Linked DNA regions of Homo sapiens: region 1 is linked to region 2. Evidence: fine-mapped expression QTL. A gene starts in region 2. The other region holds a variant in brackets. All regions are shown on one strand. Distances are from middle to middle.

Region 1 (2,904 bases), 35 kb after region 2:
AGTCTTACTTTAGGCAGGGGCCCCAGAGACAACCATTTAGAAGATTCCGAGAATCTGCCTACTAGCATGAGGTAGGCTGCCTGTGCAGGACCTGCCAGGAAGGTGTAAACCTGGCCTGCCAGCTCTAGCCCACTGGTCACTTGGGCCGAAGAGTCATGAGAAAAGGGTTATTTGGGAGAGAGCTGAGTGTCATGATGTGCCCGCCGCCCTTGGGTCAGGTGACTGTTTCCTGCTGGTTTGCCTGGGACTCTCCCGGCTTTAGCAATGGAAGTCTTGCATCCCGGGAAACCCCTTAGTCCCAGGCAAACTGGGTCAGGTGAGCACCATATTTCTGGGGGAAGATTCTGGCACTTCCTTCCTACCTCAAGACAGGTGTGAGGGGCTTTGAGGGGCTCTGGAGCCATGGGCCTGGGGACAGAGCTAACACCCATGCATCAGACACCCAGAGGACCCATGCCAGATCACACTGCTGTGCTCAACTCCCTCCCTTCTCCCTCTGGGCCTAGCCTCAGATGGTCTGAAACCCAGCTAGTGAGAATGGGGGCTGGAAGTAGAGCCAGGAGAGAGAAGAGACTAGCAACACAGACCCCCGACTCCTCCTCAGGCCGCTTCTAAGCCTGGAGCAAGCCTCAGATTGTGGGAGGAGACTGAACTTAACAAAATTTAAAGTTTGATGTTACACTGTCTTGGACATTTTAAGTCACTGAAATGAGACTTGAAAGGGCCGAGAAGCACTGTGGGAGCTGCCAGGGACGTCCCCCGGGGATGGGGAGGAATGATGACAGAGGGCAGGGGAAGGCTGAAGCTGCTTATGAGCCAGCACTGCCAAGGGCGACCCTCTCAACAACCAGGCTGCTTGGAGTGGCCACTGTGGGCCCCACCAGGGCCTTGCCGCCTCCTCCCAGACAGGGGTGGAACCACAGCTGCTGCCACTTCTACTGCCTAAGGCGCAGGGATGGGGGGTAAGAACCCAGGGTCCCCTCACTGCCCCCTGCCCATCAGGCTATGGCAAGAGCCTTTCCTCACCCCAGATGCTGCCTCCTCAAATGGAGCATCCCAGCTCTCCAAACCACCAGAGCCCGTCCTTCTCCTCCCAAGCAACCACAATAATAAATGATAGCCTGTTGACACATGCGAGACACGGAAATAGGTTCTTAACAGACATTGTCTTCTTTTGTCCTTATAATTTACCAGTGAGGTATTGTTGCCATCCTCATTTTTCAGAGGATCAGAGAGGTTAAGGAACTTGCCCAGCTATTAAGTAGTGGAGTGGAAACCTGTTCTGTCTCCACCCAAAGCGCATGTCCAGTTCACAATTCTGCACGGCTTCCTAGCTCTTACCTAGCCTAACCTCCCAGCTCCCCACCAGGC[G/A]CCTGGGAGGGACATCTTTGCACTGGGACCTTGGTGGGATAGCTGCGTTTCCACTATTCCTACTTGAAACCTGGAATGTGTTTTTTCATGGAGACAATATGATGAAGGGTTCCTTCGACTCCACGGTGGTTACTTATTGGTTAAGTCGCCCTTTGTGACCTGGCCTGGGGTTCTGACCACACTCGATCATGTGATTTCCCAGGAAGAAAACACATCCTGGGTTCTAAATAGCAAATTCCAAACACACTGTTAGGACACAGCTTATTTGTGAGTTAGGGAATGTCTGCCTGTAAATGATTTTAATTTGAGTGACAAGAAAAATAAACTGGGCTCTTTCATTATGCTATTTGGGTTGTTGGTTTACATAGAAGTGAGGCTGCCCCGCACTTTGTCCTTCTACAAGGGCGTCATCTGTTTGAATTATTCAATCTCTTCAAAGAGTTTGTGGCTAAGTGTACGGTACTGGAGAAGCATGTGGTTTAGTGAGTGAATTAAAAGTCAGGAGATGTGGGTCTAGCCCTCCCCTTGCCCTTAACCAGCTGTGTGACTTTGGGTGAGTCACTGTACCTCTCAGGGCATCTGCTTCTCAATCTGTACAATGAGGTGACTCTCGAGAATCCCCAAGTTCCCTCCCAGACCTCAGATCCCATGAAGAACAAAGAGCCTCAGGTGCAGAACTGCGAAGGAGAGGTCTGCTCAGAAATCATGTTTCTTTCTTTTGCTTCCCTTTGTAATTTTTCAAGAAAAATTCTTTAGTAATGGTGTTCTTGGGCTATAGCAGATGAAAAAAAGAGAAAGTCAGGTTCTTTGGGGTTAAATGGAGCATTTAATGACAGTTAAGCAAAAAGATGTGTGCTGGGCCTTTTTCTCACGTTGGATGTTTGGCTAATTGATCAGCAGATCCTGGCACCCAAGTGACAACCTGCATTGAAAAGGCGGAACTTGGCTCTCCTGCCCTGCCAGCTGTAAGAGCTTGAAAGCAAAGCTATGGGGGGAATGTCTTTCATTTCCCCCTGGAAGCTGGGAGGACGTTCAGCTTAGCATTGCCAACTGTGTAATGTGGACTTGCCTCTAAAAGAAGCCTTTTTCCTTGGATGTCTTTCAGGCCGCAGTATTCCCTTTGGCACCCCCACCCACCTGGAACAAAGCCTGATGTAAAGTCTGGGTGCGACTCAGACCGGCCTGGGAAAGAATTTATTTAATAAATGGTGGAAAGTGGCTTCCTTGACGTGTCTTCGATGGCTTTTTTATAAAGCATTTGGTTTGTCTACTCGTCTGTTTTTGCGCCATCTCTTTCCACAAAGATGGCTTATAGCAGGGATACTTACAACAAAATGATGCTGGGAAAACAAAAACAAAGAAGTAGAGAATTAGGCCTGAGAAAACTAGGAGTAGAGAGTCACGATTAGATACAGAGGAGCATAGATGTGTAGTCTAGGAAGGCCAACTAATTGTTATAGCTGAAATTCAAATTCAGTTAGCTAAAATGTTCCTAGTGTCAAAGGAAGAATGGGCCACACAGTTGCATAATCC
Region 2 (2,904 bases):
TGCAAGTCGGACACATTGGCCTTTTATCTTTCTCCATAAATATGTTTTAAATGTGACCAATCAGCTGTACTGTTTCAACTGGGCCCAAGATCTGGACACAGAAACTTAGTATTACTGAAACCTCTTATTCGAAAAGCAGCTGGCATATTGCAGATGCATAACAAGTTATCCTAGAACAGGCGTTTTGAAAAATCCTACAAATCGTCCTTGTACATACTGATGTCACTACATGATGCAAGCCCAGACATAAAATCTTCCACCCTAAGTTTTGCAGAAACATCCACACATCACCTGTGCAACTGTAAGCTGTTCCATTTTATGGAAACCCTGCGAAATGCATCACTGTTTACCCACATCTCAACTTTTTTTTTTTTTTTTTTTTTGGCTCAACTACAGATTCCCAAATACAGGTATATACTGGTAGAATCATAACAGGCTTAAAACTTCAATGGTAGGAATAGTTGGCTCATGCAGCGTGCAAGAAGCGCTCATATGAGCCAAAAAAAAAAAAAAAAAAAAAAGGAATTCTACCAGCAATGGAAAACTCAAGATTCCAAAGCTTTACCTAGAGTTTAGGTACTGGGAACATTCCATCTCCGCACCTATTCCATCCCTTGGCCCTTCGCTGACCCATAACAGAGATTCCAACTATAACCCCCGCAAAAGCAGAGGTCCCAGGAAGAAAGGAAAGAAAGCGTTTTTTTGTTTGTTTGTTTGTTTGTTTTTGTCCTTTTTTCCTTCCTTTCAAATCATCCTCGTACCTCCGGCTTGCCCCACCTGGCTCACCTCCCAGGAGCCACACATGCAGGTAAGAGCCTCCCGTTCAACGTGCAGGGCCGAGAGGCCGGCGGGGACCGGAGAACCTCTTACCTTCGTATATCACAGCCGCGTCCTCTCGGCTGGAGAAAAAAAGCCTCGAGGCCCCGGCGCGCAGAGGAGAAGCGCGTCCTCCGTGCCGCTCCGGGGGGCTACCTCAGCGCCCCCCGAGCAGCCGCCGCCGCAGCGGTCGCGCCACGACCCGGAGCCGCCAGCACCACCTCATGCTGCTGGGCAGCCGCGGGCCGGCGCCGCTGGGGAGGTGGCAGGGAGGCGGGCAGCCGGCGACCTCTCCTACCTCCCTGCAGGGATGAGATAATCCACACCCCCAAAAGTGCGTGGGGGAGGGGGCCTGGCCCCAATCCTCCGACCCCGCGGCCAAAGCCAAGTCTCTTTCCTCTCCCGCTCAGGCCCAATTCCGGCCCCTGGGACCCAGGAGTCCTGAGAGAACAATGTTGGTGGTGGGGCGCGAGGAGCGGAAAAGCGCACTGCGCGGCGTGAGCTGGCGGGTAATCCTGGGCAGCGTTTGTGTGTGAGAGTGCAAGAGGAGCTCAGTCACCCCCCTCCTTCTCCACCTCCTCTTCCTCCCCCTCCTCCTCCTCTATCTCTTCCTCCTCCCTCAAGCACACCCCCTCTCCTAGGCCGCAGCATAGCAACCGAACATGGCGGCTGCGCAGGCGCCGCCAGTCAGTGGCCAGGAGCGGCGGCGGCAGCAACAGGAGGCGATCTCGCGAGAGGCGAGGCCAAAACCCTGCCTCGCTAGCGCAGGGAGAAGTCGCACCAGTCGGAGCGCAGAGGGACACGCAGGTGCGAGAGAGAGCGGCCTAGGAGGATTGGGAGGGCGGATTGGAGGGGGGAGGCGGAGCGCTGTGGCCCCCGCCCCGCAGCCGCGTCGCGATTGGTTGTTTGGACTGCGACCCCTGCTGCACCCACTGACCGCAGGGACCGGATAGTGGGCAAGAAGCGTGTGTTAAAAGGGAAAACCAGACCAGTTGGCAGCAGGTCGCCCCAACCTCAGTGCTCCTGGAGGATATAGGTTTTGGGGGGCAGTTTTGAATCATTTCCTCTCCTAAACGTAGGCTCCAAAACAAAGCCTCAGCAACCAACCTGCGTTTATAAAACAAACGTTCGGGGGCTCCTTCTGTGTGCCTGGAACGGTGTGCTTTTTAAAATTTAATTCCTTCTAATAACATGAATTTGGTGTTATCACGCCAGGGTTTTTAGCCAGGTGCATTATAATATTTTATTGGTGATACAAACTTATTGGTAATACCACAGTTGCCTACTGGCGAATGATCTCAGCTGAAATGGAGGAAGAAGGGATTTGGGGACCGCCACACTTCCTTTTTGCCCAATTTTTGTTAGTGCCCTTTTCTGTCGCCAGGCGCCTTCTTTGTCCTTCCTTGCTCTTAGCTTGAGCATCCTATCAGAGCCTACCTTTATAAAGACGATCTTTCAAAAACCACTTTCCCAAGCCGACAAAATGACTACAAATCAGGGGAATGTGAACAAATCTGGAAAAGACAGAAATTTCTATTGACTCTCTTCTCCCTCACACCTGTTAGTTTTTCCATTTGAAAAAGGCAACTTGTCAATCCATGTTTCCAGCTTTACTTCCTTCACTTGCTTTTCTTCCCAGATCTCTGTTGTAGCCAGTGCTCATTCATTCCTCCCTAAATATGCATTCCTGCCTCTGACTCTCCATTTTGTCTTTGATCATGCCATTCCCTCTGCTAAAATGCTCTTCACCTCATTGTCATCTGTCAACATCCAGTCATCCTCCAACCAAAGATCATATGAGACTTCCACCAGAAATTGAATGTTTCATATAAATAGAATCATACAATATGTAATTTTTGTTTAGAGGCAAGGTCTCGCTATGTTGTCAGGCTGGTCTCCAACTCCTGGGCTCAAGAGATCATCTTACCTTAACCTTCGGAGTAGCTGGGATTACACATGTGAGCCACATGGCTTACATGTAGTCTTGTGTCTGGTGTTAAGCAAGACACAAAAGTTCCTGAGTGGAACTTCCCCTGCAAGTCACCAGGATGGACCCTTTGAAGTTACCAATACTCACCATTATTCCTT

Alleles and levels. Positions count from the first base shown, and alleles are read on the strand shown. Sizes are in standard deviations (SD) of each study's normalised expression.
For the expression in tibial artery of the gene that starts at base 1,333 in region 2, allele A in region 1 goes with a higher level than allele G (large effect, 1.0 SD a copy in GTEx).

What was found. PIP is the estimated chance that this variant, and not a neighbour inherited with it, causes the effect.
Region 1: its variant is fine-mapped to the expression of PTPN4 in tibial artery (GTEx, PIP above 0.99). The same link has a PIP of 0.9 or more in gastroesophageal junction.

The regions. Positions count from the first base shown.
Region 1 is chr2:119,722,892-119,725,795 of GRCh38, reverse strand. LOC101927764 (a long non-coding RNA gene) reads left to right here. Exons shown (of 4, transcript XR_007087215.1): 3 at 1-2,904. It also overlaps a transcript of TMEM177 not described here. Among named protein-coding and RNA genes, the nearest start is that of PTPN4, 36 kb to the left of the region's middle. The variant G/A (reference allele first, on the strand shown) is at 1,372.
Region 2 is chr2:119,758,351-119,761,254 of GRCh38, reverse strand. It overlaps PTPN4 (protein tyrosine phosphatase non-receptor type 4), which reads right to left and starts at 1,333. Exons shown (of 27, transcript NM_002830.4): 1 at 871-1,333. LOC101927764 (a long non-coding RNA gene) reads left to right here and starts at 1,541. Exons shown (of 4, transcript XR_007087215.1): 1 at 1,541-1,623. RefSeq lists enhancers at 477-1,101, 1,372-1,631, 1,348-1,642 and silencers at 832-1,131, 1,682-1,791.